Homo sapiens: one gene and its partner. Each later gene encodes a partner of the first gene's protein in a complex. Each region holds a gene or a part of one and is shown on either strand. Other genes may lie near its edges. The genes, in order: RAI2 and CTBP2.

Region 1 (7,100 bases):
GGAACCCCTTGAGAAACCCACATGTTCATAAAGATGAGGTCAGATTGTGTTGGTGTACCCCAGGGTGAAGGGCTCAGCCACCAGCCCAATTCACACATGTCTTCTACAGAGTTCACCAAGTAATACTGGTTCAACCAACACCCGGGGCCTAACAACTCCAAAATCCTGGTCTGCAACTTAAATTTTGAACTCCAGATCTACTCTTCCAAATGCCTACTGGACAGCTCTACGCGGCTAATCAACAGGCACCTCCAATTCGAGATGTCTTAACCAGAACTCCCTGGAGCAGATACTGATGATGCACCACCCACATCCCTTGGGTGCTACCACTTTAATGTGCTCCACAGACATCCAGCTGCCAGGATCTTCTCTCTGTATTTGGGAAGGATCTTCTGCCTATGCTGGGTGGTAGGTTGGAATTGCCAGAAAATCAGCACCCCCTGGACTGCTCTTAACTAGCTTCTTCATCTCTGGAGTGGGTGCTTGGTATCCTGTCCAAGAGTTTGCCTGTGGGATTAAGCTCCAGTTGCTCACAGTGGTAACTGGCCTTGTGAACATGCCTCCCATTGATGGCTGTCCCTCTGGCTTCCTTCCCTCCTCCCCTACAGTGTTTCCTTCAGTTCCCAAATCAACTTTCTGCACTGGAATCCTTGTCTCAGGATATGCTTCTGGGGGAACCTACGACACTTGTCATTGCCAGCCCCAAATCTGCTTCTCTTCCTAGGGACCTCTATCTCAGTGACCACGCCCCCACCCACCCTGTCACCCAAGTCAGAAAACCAGGTGTCAGTCACCCTTACTCCTGTTTCCTCCATCATCAAGCCTTGTTGATTCTGCATCCCAAGTACCACCTGACTCAAGTTCCTACTCTTCATCTCTGCTGGCAGGACCAATCATTGCAACAGCCTCTCTTACCTGGTCTCCCTGCTGCCAATCTCACCTCCCTCTGATCAGCCCACCACACCAACCAACAGAGTGATCATTCCTCAATCCAAATCTTTCCTTGTCATTCCCTTGCTTAAAGCCTTTCAATGGTTCTCACTGACTGCAAGGAAAAGCTCCTTGACAGGACAGACCAGGGACTTCAAGTGACCTGTAGCTTCCCTTTCCCCCTCCTCTACTATTCCTCACAGCCTCTACTCTGGACTTACAAAAAATCTGCAGCCTCTAGATAGTGTTCTGCATCCCAGCTTCAGTTCCCTTCACTTATAATGCCTTTTGTTTACTTTGGAAACTTCTATTTGTCTCTCAGCACTCAGCAACTGTCACCATCTCTGGCAACCTTTTCTGACTTCCCTGCCCCATGCCATTCCCTATTCCTTCCCAGTGCAGGAATAGGCCCACTCCTTGGGTGTTCACCCAGCCTATTTTATAACTCACCATGTACCACACAATGTCAAATTGTATTATTAACAGTTCTTAATAATCTGTGAGCATACTGGGGTCAGAAACCATGTATTCACCATATCTCTAACCCACATCCTTAGCTCAGTGACTGTGCAGCTAGTAGGTGCTTAATAGATGTTTATTGGATAAACAAACTAATCGCTCATCTGGCAAGTATGTGGAAACTCGATTATAAGGAGATGCTGTATGAGAGAAGGAGGATATGGGTAAAAAGAATAAGATCTGGGATGGGAAATTTCTTGGGTACTTATTTAAAATCACCAAATATTACAATTACAGATCTCAAAAATCACCCTGACCCATCCTGGAAGATTTTGAGGTTGTTCTTTCCTGCTGTTTCGGCATGTTCCTTCTTCCCTCCATTTTCTTAGGCACCCCTTTAACTGTATGAACAAAATTATTCCACATTAATGTCCTATTTCTGTCCCAAAGCACCACCCCACACGCACACACAAATCCAGACCCACCCTTTATGAACCTTTTTTCCTTCCCTTTGCAAGGGCAGCCAGGATGAAAAGGCAGAAGGGTGCCACTGTATGTTTATTTGGGAATGGGGGCCATGAAGCCTATTTCTTCTGCATTAATCTGAATCAATATAATCTTTCCTGAAAACATAAGCACCTCAAAGGGCAGCAAATATGAATCACAACTGCCAGTGAGGATCAAACATTAACCCAGGGTTGTGATGAGGCCAACAAAAGAAATAGGCTAGTAATTGCCTTCCAGGATATCAATCCCTACCTTATACACACATACCCCCTCAACACACACAAAACCTTTATGGATCTTTCATCCATGAACTTGCCCAATTATAATTGCCCAGCTGTGTCTTTAGTTGGATTCAGGCTAGGTCTTGGCAACCGAGACCTCACATACCTTATCCAAGAACTTAGAACAGTTATGAGATCTATAGAGGAAGTCTTTGGTTGCTGAAATGATTGAAGACACATTCATAAATATTTCCACAGGTATCATTAATTAGTTGGGGCTGATTTTAAACCCCCCAAAACCTGATTGAAACAAGTAGAAACTGACACTTTCTGTTGATATTCATTATTATCAATTCTTAAACTTGCACTGTGTGTCTTTCCACCCCTGTGTGGTCTGGGTACTTCTTAATTTAACTCTTCTTTTTCAAAAGAGGAAATTCAGTATCAAGGAATGGTACTACCAGGGCTGACTTCTCCCTTAGGCATAGTAGACACAGTGCCTGGGGCTCATGTTTAGGGACCCACATAAATCTTTTAATTTCTTTTAAAATCAGAAGAAAAAATGAATTTTTAGGTTGAAGAAACTGTTTTAATATATAATGCTATTATATTCATCTTTACACAAATGCAATTGTAAAATGTAATTTGTAATATCTTTCTACGGAGGAAGGAGTCCACAAAGGCAAAAGTGCTCAAGACAGACATCATTCAGCCTCAGTTACTACCACCTTATGCTTGCAACACAACATAGTTAGAATACAGCCTTTCAAACACAAGTTCAGGCTCCCATACTAATTATAAACTGTGTTATAAAACTCAGATTTGATAAGAGGAAAGTCATGTTTAATACACACAGTATTGGAACTTCAGGGGGCTCGAGACTACCAAGAACAACTAGATTCATTTTATTCTCTGCTCTGATTAAATAATTTCTGCTCTGCTATTCTCTCTCAAATATCTTCATCCTGTTTTGATTAATAGAAAAAAATCTTTACATCTTTGGAGAATCATTAAACCAATTTGGTTGCTTCCTTGGCTGTCTCAAGAATTCTAAGGGTTTATTGTTTTCAGTTTTAAAATGATCAATAGTACAACTGACACCTACTACTTATTTACTGGTCAGCAATCATACAGTCACCGTCCCTGTAACTCCAGTTCTTTGCCCAGTATCTGGCAAACACTAGGCGCTTAATAAAGGTTAGATTGATACATGAATCACCTCTTGGATGGAAATTACATTACGTAGGTGGACTAATTTGATCTTTCCTAATCTCCCACCTTGTGAGAAGCATCCTCCACCGGTATCACAATTGGCATTTTCGGGTGATCGCTGAGCCCTTCCCACCTCCCCCGCTTCCATCAGCCAGCCACTTCCTCCCTTCTGGGCTCTGTTCCTCGCTCTTCTCCATCCTGGGGTCTGGAATGGTCCCCAGCCCGCCGGGAGGCAGTAGGGTCCCAGCTCCTCCGGCCCTCCCCCGGCGCTCCCCCCAAGGTCCTCCTCCCCGCCCCGACACCCCTTCTTCCTGGCACCCCGCGCCGCCCACGGCCACGCCCTCCCCGTGGGCGAGATCACCTGTCCCTCCTCCGCCGCCGCCTCCTCGGGTACCCTTTCGCCCCCCTCCTGCTCCCCCTCCTCCGCCGCCTCCCCCAAGCCCTCCCCTTCCCCGCCTCCTCCCACCCCTTGGTGTATATAGTAAAGGCCGGGCGCCGCACGCAGACACACACTCGCCAGGACACAGGCGCACACACGCTCACGCACAACCAGCAGCGGCGGCGGCGACAGCGACTCGGTGACAGCGGCGACGGCGGCTCCCACCGCGGCGCACCCCCTTCAGGCGGCCGGCGGCGAGGCCAGACCGGAGAGTTCCAGCACACTCGACCACCCCGCGGCTTCCTGGAGGCGGCGGCCGCGATTGCGAGGTAGTGGCCGCGGCGCCCCCGTGCGGGCCGGGGTCACCCCCGCCCTCCCCGCGCGGAGCTGCCACCGGGACGCAGGGGGCGCGCCGGGCTGGGCGCGCCTGGCGGGGCCCGGCGCCCGGGGAGGGGCCTGCTCCCGGGGGCAGGACGGCGCCCGGAGGCCGGGGCCGGCTGGGAGGGCCGGGCGGGGGCGGGGACGCGGGCCGAGGCCGCCGCCCGTGTGGCGCGCCGGGGCCCCGCTCCCGTTCCCGGCGCCGCGCACTGGCCGGCGGGGCCGGGGACTGCCGGGGAGGCGGCGCCGGCCGGCGGGGCGGGGGCCCCGAAGTGGGTTTCGGGCCGCCGCCCGCACTGGCATCGGGCGCAGAGGGCGGTGCACGGCGGACTCCGCGCCCAGGCACCGCACCGGGCAGTCTCCGGATCTGCCGTTCTGCCCCGGCCCGGAAAACCCGGCGCCTTCCAGGCCCTTCGAAAGATGGATTCTGTTGACGTATCTGGCGGCCCTGGCGAGCCTGGTGGAAAGTTGGGTTTTGCCAGATTGCGCCGGGCTCCTCTTTGTGACGCGCGGCCAGCCCCGCATCCCCCCCGGAGCCGGGTGAGTGTGCGTCGGCGCCCCGGGAGCCCCGGTGCCCCCCAATGCCCAGCCCCGGGGTGGCCGCACCAGCTCGGGCTTTCTGCCATGTTAGGCACCGAGCAACGTTCTCGCTGCATTTTTGCGTGCGTTTCAGTGGCGCCTTTTGCTGCGGAGGGAGTTATTGCTTCTCTCCGCGGTGGCTTTTTCGGGGTTGGGGTTGTGCTCTGTGTGTTTGCTTGTTTGCCATTTAAAGCCCGACTATTGTTCAGGATAAGCTCCGCCTGGGTGGGGAAATGGCATCCCACCACAGTTGCTGGCGAGGGGTAGAAATGTTGCCAAACAGCTGCTGCTTTGTGTTTCCCTATCAGAAGTCCTTGGAGTAGGTTTGGGGCACGACGGATGGATGGAGAGAGGGATGGGGCACGGAAGAAGAAGGTGGCTTTGGAGGAGCGGGTTGTTACCCACACCATGGCACTCACTCAGTCTCCCTTTCTGCCTGCCAAACTTTTATGAATATTCCTTTTGTGGCAGAGGGAAGCTTAATGAATTTAGCCCAGTTTTCCAAGGAAAAAGCAACCCAGCTTTAACAATGGTTTGAGAACTTAATCAATGAAAAAGGCAGGAGAGGAGGACAAGGAGGCGCCGACACCATATCGGGTATGTGGCTGCTGCTTGCAGAGTCAGGTAGGGGAGAGGTGGGGAGGGCACGGCGCAGCGTCTGGGTGACCGTGTTCCCGGAACTGTTGGTAGCTCTCACCTGTGCCCGCTGGTGCCACCCACCGTCGTGCCCCTATGTCGTGGGCTGTTCAGAACCCAGCGATGGGGTTTGAGGGGCGGCTTGCGGCAGTGCGCGGGCCGGCCCCCCTCATCTGGCGTTTTTAAGGATGTGTAAATATTTTGCTGAGGATAAGTGACATCAACAGAATGATATTCCGCAGAGCCCGGGTGTGCAGCGATGATAAATAGATATGGCCAAACAAAGTTTTGATAACCGCGTATTCTCATGGCTCTGTCTGTTTCATTTGGGTCTTTGTTTTTGTTGGTTTAGCATTATCTCGCATCCTCTGGTGTGATCCCTTTATTTAACTGATTCTTGGAAGCTTCTCTTTAGAACAGAGAGAAAAGCAGCCAGCAGGGAGAAAACAATTCTTAGCCTTGCAAGCATCAGGCAAGGTTTTCTGTGCTTTTCCCAGGGAATCTTTCCCACCGTTTTCTGGATGTCTCTCTTGCTCCTTTGGAGTCATCAGAATTGGTTGTTGGTGGACCGAGAGACTTGTGACAACTTTGAAAATGTGGTGTGGACATGCCTTTGTTACAGTAGAGGGGTGGCAAGGTGGGAGGGGGACAATACGGAAGGGGACAGTATGGAGGCTAGTTTTCTTCTCAAACGGGAACATGAGAAGCCAGGGGTGGGCTGGAAGGCAGAGAATTGTAAGATGGTGGCATCCCAGTTTCTCTGCCTCTTACAAGCCCAGAGAAGCCACCTGCCCCCACACCCCCACATACACACAGTCTCCTTCAAATGGGCACTCGCTTCTCGTCCTGACAGATGCCCACTAGAGGCATCCCCAGGGCAGCCCAGGCACTATGAACCAAGTCAGACTGGAACTTGGGGGTAGTGACTACTTTGGCACCAGCCCAGGGGACCATTCAGCCACCCGAGGGGGTTCCTTTATGATGAAAAAAAGCCAAGACCTCCAGTGGTGATGTTTTGCCCAGGAAAACCTGTTCATCTGAGGAACAAATGAAAAGACAGTTTTCCAAGCGATGCCGATCGCTGGGGTGAGAACACGGTTTGGTGGGCAGCTGGGGAAGAACTGTAAGACACATTTCAAAATCTTGTATCCAGAATACAGAGTCCCTGAAACAGGACCATCTGAACTACAAGAAAGAAAAATCAAAGACTGGAAGGTGTGTGAGGAGCTGTTGCTGGGAGTGCTCTAGCTGTAATGACCCAGAAGCTGAGGATAGGACTGGCCTCCCAAATCCATTGATCCAGAATGGAGATACTCTGGATGTGCAGAAAGCCCTGCACAGCGTGCTCCAAATTTATGATAAGAAAATAGGAAACGTCTGTTCTCTGGCTTCTCCCCTAAGCTTAGAATTTTGGAGAGGATGGTAGTGGAGGGAAATAAATTGGGAAGGGAACTAACATGTATTGTTGGCCTCTGTCTGCTAGGCACTTCACATGTGGTAAACCTTCTCAGCCACCCTGTGATGGAAGAATTATTTTACAGATAAGGAATCTGAGGCTCAGATAAATTTCCAGTTGTGTATCTGATTTCAGACTTTGGTGGTTATGATTTAAAGGGGCAACATGTCCCTATTCCCCTGCTCCAGGTCTCTTATTTATTTCTCTTAACCTGTCTGAACCTCAGTTTCCTTACCTACAAGATGGGAATAATCTTTCCCATCTCACATAGACGTTGTAAAGATTAAAGTGGGACACGTCAGCATGGAACCACGAAGGACTAAAACTGGAGTATGACACCAGG
Region 2 (7,183 bases), on another chromosome or scaffold:
CTAGGGCCACTATCTTTTTTTTCTACAACCATTGGTTCCTGGAAATGAAATAGGAAAGATAGGAAGCTGAGAAATAAGAACCTCGGTTAGAGGTCTTTGATTGTAGCGGGGGAGGCAGGCTGTGATGCAGCCGCAGGCCGGTCCCACGGGCCTTTTTCAGCCCCTGGGTTCCTACAGACATCAGAAGTGCTCCCGAGGAGGTATAAAGTAGGGAAGGAATTATGCCATCCTGTTTAAAGGCTGCCAGACGGAAGAAAATAAGTGCCTTACAAACTCAACGCTCCACACTGGGGCTGTGGATCTCTCTTTTCTTTCACTACTTTTTTTTTTTTTTTTTGATGGAGTTTCACTCTTGTTGCCCAGGCTGGAGTGCAATGGCGCGATCTTGGCTCACTGCAACCTCCGCCTCCCAGGTTCAAGCGATTCTCCTACCTCAGCCTCCCCAGTAGCTGGAAATACAGGCACGTGCACCACGCCTGGCTAATTTTTAGTATTTTTAGTTTCACCGTGTTGACCAGGCTGGTCTCAAACTCCCGACCTCAGGTGATCTGCCCACCTTGGCCTCCCAAAGTGTTGGGATTACAGGCATGAGCCACTGTGCCAGTCCAAGGGTTCCCATTTCTCCACATCCTCCTCAATACACGTTTTTTTCTCTTTTGTTGATAAAAGACATCCCGGTGGACATGAAGTAGTAACTTATCGTGGTTTTGATTTGCATGTCTCTAATGACCAGTGAGGCCAACCATCTTTTCATGTGCTTACTGGCCGTTGGCCATTTGTCTACCTTCCTTGGAGAAATGCCTATTGAGTCTTTGGCCATTTTTGAATTGGGTTTTTTGTTTGCAACATCTTAAAAAAAATAGTATGAAATAATTCACATGTTGGGGGCAAATGAGCTCCATATTTTAAAATGCAGGTAAAGTGAAGTGAGAAATACTTTTCAGCTCTCAGGATGCCTTGCTTTTAATGTCTTCAAAACAAATAATATATTAATAATACTTTCTCGGCCGGGCACAGTGGCTCACGCCGGTAATCCCAGCACTTTGGGAGGCCAAGGCAGGCGGATCACAAGGTCAGGAGATAGAGACCATCCTGGCTAACACGGTGAAACCCTGTCTGTACTAAAAATACAAAAAAAAAAATTAGCCGGGCATGGTGGCGGGCGCCTGTAGTCCCAGCTACTTGGGAGGCCGAGGCAGGAGAATGGCTTGAACCCGGGGGGCGAAGCTTGCAGTGAGCAGAGATCGCGCCACTGCACGCCAGCCGGTGACAGACTGAGACTCCGTCTCAATAATAATAATAATAATTATACTTTCTCTTTTTTTTTTCTTGAGACGGAGTTTCGCTCTGTCGCCCAGGCTGGAATGCAGTGGTGCAATCTTGGCTCACTGCAACCTCCACCTCCCTGGTTCAAGCGATTCTGCTGCCTCAGCCTCCCGAGTAGCTGGGATTACAGGCATGCGCCACCAGGCCTAGCTAATTTTTGTATTTTTTTTTTTTTAGTAGAGACGGGGTTTCACCATGTTGGCCAGGATGGTCTTGATCTCCTGACTTCGTGTTCTGCCCCGCCTTGGCCTCCCAAAGTGCTGGGATAACAGGCGTGAGCCACCGTGCCCGGCCAAGAACATGTTAGTAATACTTTCTAAGTCAGAATTCAAATTTATAGAACACGTGAAAGTGAAGGAGTGATATGGAAAATCAGGCTTTTTGTGGTTTCTTCCTGAGAAAAGAAGACCACTCAGAACCAAAGACTTCTGTGAAATAAGGAAGCAGAAAATCTTTATTTGTAGTTCTTATAGTTTATGCCTAAGAAACTCCGAAGAACAGGTACTGGTAACCCGGTAGCCTGGCGGTGGCCGCGGTTTGTTTACAGCCAAAAACTAGCTGAGGCGCCATGCCCTTGAGGCAAAACTGCTGAAGAGAGAAGCACCCTGAAGATCAGTTTGTGGAGATCCAGGGTTGCCAGAAGACGAGACAACCGTGATTGCATGTGCGGAGGTTCCTCGATGGAAGCGCAGCCCGGCGCGCCCCTCAGCTGGCCTGGCCAGGCCCTATGAAGGTCACGCGAAAACCCTGCTGCGGGCTTCTTAGCGACCGCATTACGTGGACTAGCGGGCAAGAAAAGCCTGGTCGGCGCTGCCCTCACAGGTAGGCGGTCTTCAATCACGTTTTAAAATCTTGTTGAGTGATTAAGCAATCTTCGATAGTCCCGGCCCCTCCACTGCAGGCCGCTCAGGCCGCAACGCACCTGGTGCGCTTTGGCAAACAAGCCCCGCGGCGGGCTGGGGCAGGATTTAAGAAATGTTTAATGAAGACTGGGAGGCCTGGAGCAACGCTCTTTGGGATGCAGAAAAGGGTCGTGCAGCTCGGTGGCCTCTCCTCCGGCCCCCTGGCCCTGGCTGTAAGTTTCCTCGGCTCTGCAGGGCGCGGGGCACTCAGGGATGGAGGAGACCACACCGCGCGGCTGGGTTCGCGGAATGGCGGTCCCTGCGGCCTCCAAAGGCGGGACCTCAGACCCCTCCCACTCCTTTCCTGCTCGACATCTCAATCCAGCTCCTAATATCTCAATAGGGTTTTTAAACAAATCGATCCTAAGGGCTCAGTTCAGCCCACCCAGGGATTCTTGGAGGACGCACGCCGAACTCAGGGTAGTGAGAAGAGTTTGGGGGGCCCTGGGGCGCAGGGAGAAGACCCCACACTCCACGGCCACCAGCTCCCTTCCGGAGACGGCGCTCGGACGTCGCGGGTCACGGGCGGGGAATTTAGCCCAGGTGCTCGTTGGGCCGCGAGCGGCCGCTGGGCCTGGATTCCCAGGCTCGCTGTGCAGACTCCAACCTTGAGACGTCAGGACGGCGTGGGCTCCGGGCCGCCGCGCAAGCCCAGGACCCCGAGTCGCGGGCCCCCACGCCGCAGCGCGCCTCCCTCCTCGAGACCCGGGGCTCCGACCCAACACAGGGCTTCTCAAATGCCCCGGCGAGATCCAGGCAGCAAGAGGGAACCTTTTTTTTTTTTTTCAATGTGTAAGAATGTTTTGCTTCTTTTAGGGCACAGCACTGCTGCAACTTGCAGCACAGAGGGCCCTTCCCTGCGCACCCACAGCGGTCGCCGCCTCTCCGGCACGGTCTCCCGGATCTGGATTTGGGGAGCGCAAGTGCCCCCTGTGGCCGGCCCGCGCCTGACCCCGCGGGCCTGAGAAGGCAGAAGCGGCCGGTGCGGGGCACCAGGAGGAAGTTGGAGCCCGGGGGCCGGGAAGGGGGCTGGTTGGCGCCGCTGGCTGGGCGGGGCCCCATGGGACCGGGGCCACCCGGGGCTCGCGTTCCCCCACGTGGCCGGCTGCCCGGTACCCCACGTGGAAGGGGCGGAGGAGGATGAAGGGCCAGGGGAGCAGCGGACCCCGAGCCACCGCGACAGGACCTCGGCCCCTGCCACCGAGGCCCCCGCGCCTCCCGAGGGCCTCCCGGGCGGGGCCGGGCTAGGGAGTGCCCGCCGCGCCCGGCCCCTGGCCCTCCCGCCCGCCGCGCTTGTGTGCACTTTCGCGGAGCCACTAATCCCCCGAGAGAGCCGATTTGTAGTGAGGAGTATCTGAAGGGGGCGAGGCCGGCCCATGTGGGGTTGTGTCATTGGTTTGCAAAAAGAGACCCCGCCTTTGCCCCCCCCCCCCAAAAACAGGAGCGAGGAGTGAGCGAGCGGCGACCCTCACCTCGCCTCCCGCCTAGCTCCTGCGCAGCCAGCGGGTACCGGGAGCTGCGGCCAGCGCCGCTTCTTTCCTTTCCTTTTCTCTCCGTTTTCCTTCTCCTTCCCCGGAGGAGAAAACAAATAAAGAAGAGCAAATAGCCGGGAGGCGCTCGGCATCCAGGACGTTCCCTCCCCCGATCCAAGTTGGAATTAGCATCCTCTCGGGGGTGAGCGCGGCGCGGGGCGGGCCCGGGCCGGGGACCCCCAGCGCAGCCCCCTCTCGGCGGGCGGGAGGGCGCGGGGCCGGGACGCGGGGGGAATTGGGAACCGGGTGGGCGGAGGAAGGGGGTGGGGTGGGTGGGGAAGTAGGAAGAGGCTCGGCGGCGAGGGGAGGAGGTGGAAGGGAAGGGAGGGGTAGGGTGGGGAGGGGAGGGGAGCGGAGGGAGGGTGGGGAGGGCGGGAGGGGGAGGGGCGGGGAGCTGGAGAGATTAAGTTTTTGTGTGTGTGTCCCTGTGTGCGTGTGTCATTTTAAGGTGGCTCGGGAGCGGCCCGGAGGAGCCGGCGGCGGCCCGAGGAGCGAGGGACCGAACCGGGAGCCATGCCGCGCTGAGGGGGGGCCGCACAGCCGCCGCCACCGCCACCGCCGCCGGGTGGGGTGGGAGGGGCGGGAGACGCCGCCGCCGCCGCCTCCAGGGTGGGCGCCTTTCGCCGTGGACGCCGACCGTCCGGGACGAGGTAAGGGGGGCCCCGGGGGAGGGCTGGGGCCGCCGCCGCCCCCGCCTCACCTGCGGCCGCGGGCTGGGGGCGCCGCGCCCGCGCCTCACTGCGCCACTCAGGGAGGAGGAGGAGGAGGAGGAAGAGGGCGAAGGACGCGGAGCCGGCATCCGAGGACATCTTTGGTCCGTGCCCCCGGCCTCGTGTCCCCCCTCGGCGCCCGGGGGTGGACGCTGGCTCGGGGGTCCCCGCCCGCCCCCGCCACCGATTGCGCCCGCTGGCCGCCGTTTGCGCCAGGATTTTTGTTGTTGTGATGAGAGTTGATGAATGCGAAGTAGGCGGTCACCTTCCTTCCCATCAGGGTTGAAAAAAAAAAAAAAAGAAACCCCGAGCGCGGCGGCGTCCGGAGGGCAGCGGCGGCGGCGGCGGCGGCGTCTCGGCGACGGTTCCCTGGGCGCCCCCGGCTCCTGCTCCCTGAGCCCGGTGGGTGCGCGCCCGGGGGCCGCCGGCGACCCAGGCCGAGCGCGCGACGCGCCGCGGGGACAATACGGCCGGATCTCCGGGGAACAGGAGTCCGAGCGCGCCGGGGTGCGGCGGGCCTTGCGCCTACGAGGCGAGGGTGGGGGGGGCGCGGAGAAGAGGGGTTCCGTGGGGAAGTCGGGGCGTGAGCGGCTCTCGGTCCCCAGGGGCGCTGCCCCTGCCGGCGGGGGATCCCGCGCGGCTCCCCGGGAGCGCAAGTGAAAGACGGGAAAGGAGGCGAAGTGGAACCCTTTTGTTTTGCCGGCCCCGCATTGTTGGCTCCTCCGGGCAGCCGGGCCACATCTGCTGCCGCTGCCGCCGCCGCCACTGCCGCGCGGGGCTCGGCCCGCCAAAGTCGCGGCGGGGCGGGGGGCCTGGGCGGGCCGGGCGGCGGGCGCGGGCGGGGGCCGGGCGGGCCGGGCATTTCCTCTGCCCGGCCGCGCTCCCGCGGGCACCACTTCCTCCTCGCCCGCCGCCGCCGGGAGCCCGGCCCGCCCGCCTCCCCCACCTTCCCCGCCCGGGCCGCACTTTTCGGGTGGGGCGAATCAAAAAGAAAAAGTTTAGCAGGAGGGGCTGGCTAGGGCGCGCCCCGGGCGGCAGGGACCCGGTGCGGCGCAGGGACAGCCGGGCCGCCGCGGTTCCTCCTCCTCCCAGCCCTCCGCGGCGCCGGACGGCCCCGCGCGGCCGAGGGGAAGCGCCTTTCTTTCTCTCCCTCGCGCTGCCCCCAGCGCCCCGGGCGAGTTGGGCAGAGGCGCGCGGGAGCCGGGGCGTGCCTGGGCCTTTCTCCCGCGGGAGGCCCAGCGGCGTGGCGGGTCGCCTGCAGCCCACGCCGCGCCCTGGGGCTCGGAGGCCGCGGGCCCAAGAGCTCAGCTCGGTCACCGCGGGCCGCGCCGAGACACACACGCGCGCACACACTCCCTCCCGTGGCTCGCTTTCCGCCGGCGACGACGGTCGCGGACACGGAGTGAGCGTGTGCGCGCGAGTGTTTGTGGTTGTCCCCCCTCCCCCCGCCCGGTACTTTTTCCGGAGGCGGCCCAAGCGGCAGTTGGCTGCAGAGGACCCCACGTTTAGGATTTTATAGGGAAGAGGAGGAATTTTTCGTAGAAATCCCCGCTCTGCGTGCTCGTGGTGGAGGCTGCTGGCAATGGCCTACGTCGTCATACCGGGCTTCCTTGCCCTGTCCGGGGTAAACAATCCTTCTGTGTATTTACCCCCTTTTTTCTTTAAAGATTGGAGATCGGGTTAAGTTCTTAGAGAGTCTGATGCGAGTGGCTGGAAGGATAGACAAGAGAATTCTATTCTATAAATATGCATTGGGAATTTAAAATGCTAAACGCCTTATTTGCAATTCTGTTGGATATTCTAGAGACTGGTATATTTTTATCTGACATGGATAATTTTGAGGGGACGTTATATTTTGGGGAAGTTTACAAAGTGATTCTTTCTGCCTTTCTAACTTGGGCGAAATATATCGACTCATACCACCCTTTCAAAAAAGATAGCTTTCTCTACTAGGTGTTTGGGTTCGAAGACAGTTTAAAAATTACCTCGTGTTCAGTACCTAAGATTGCTGTTTTGCCTCGAGGGTTTTCCAAGTAGAAGTGGGTAGTTTTCATGTACTTTGAGAATTCTGAGGTTTTTAACCCCCCCCTTTTTTTTTAAATATAAATCTTTTCTATTTTGAAGTAATGAGACTTTAAAGGATCTTGTTTTTGTAATCACTTGATTTCAAAGGATACTTCTTACAGCAATTATAAAGTAATAGTCAAAATGCTAATTAGACATTTTCAGTCATAGCTGCTTTAATGTTGAAACAGAATTTTTTTCTTTAGCAGAGACTGTATCGTAGAGTTGAAACGCTAAATATTCTTTTGTCTGGCATCAGATCTCTGAACTGCTCTGACATTCTCCTGAAAAACCCCTAGTGCCCTTTTTATTGCCCCCAAAAGAAAAGTTAATGAGATGGTAGATTTCAAGCAAAAAAACAGGCCCTCTTTCTTGCAAAATATGCTTACAGTTGCCATTGAAGTTGGATGTTAGCCGTGAATGCACTTGCCTTTAATGAAACCAGTTTAATCGTTCACACTTGATCAAGTATAACATGAGCAAACAAAGGAAATAAGCCAGCATATTTCTGTAGAGTGTAAGTGTTGATGTTGGGTCACCCCCTCCCCCTACCCTGCCCCCCTGTAAAAGGGAGAGAGGGTTGAAGGCAAAGGGAATTTATGGCGCTGATTGGTTTTTTGTGCCCCAGGGGTAGGGGACCCCAGTTACA

The links.
Region 2: the proteins of RAI2 (region 1) and CTBP2 are in contact, whole or in part, in a crystal structure (PDB 8ATI), measured with the Homo sapiens proteins. Residues at the interface, in NP_001166210.2 of Homo sapiens: Glu315, Ala316, Leu317, Asp318, Leu319, Ser320, Met321; in NP_001077383.1 of Homo sapiens: Leu35, Arg42, Cys44, Met48, Val57, Ala58, Phe59, Cys60, Asp61, Glu67, Ile68, His69, Lys71, Val72.

What each region holds. Positions count from the first base shown.
Region 1 is NC_000023.11:17,858,035-17,865,134, reverse strand, and holds the start of RAI2 (retinoic acid-induced protein 2), read left to right. Parts: upstream 1-3,836; 5' UTR 3,837-4,037; intron 4,038-4,229; exon of another isoform or gene 4,230-4,626; intron 4,627-7,100.
Region 2 is NC_000010.11:125,157,546-125,164,728, reverse strand, and holds the start of CTBP2 (C-terminal-binding protein 2), read left to right. Parts: upstream 1-4,165; 5' UTR 4,166-4,410; intron 4,411-4,771; exon of another isoform or gene 4,772-4,872; intron 4,873-5,951; exon of another isoform or gene 5,952-6,094; intron 6,095-7,183. UniProt on the Homo sapiens protein: Corepressor targeting diverse transcription regulators. Functions in brown adipose tissue (BAT) differentiation. Isoform 2 probably acts as a scaffold for specialized synapses.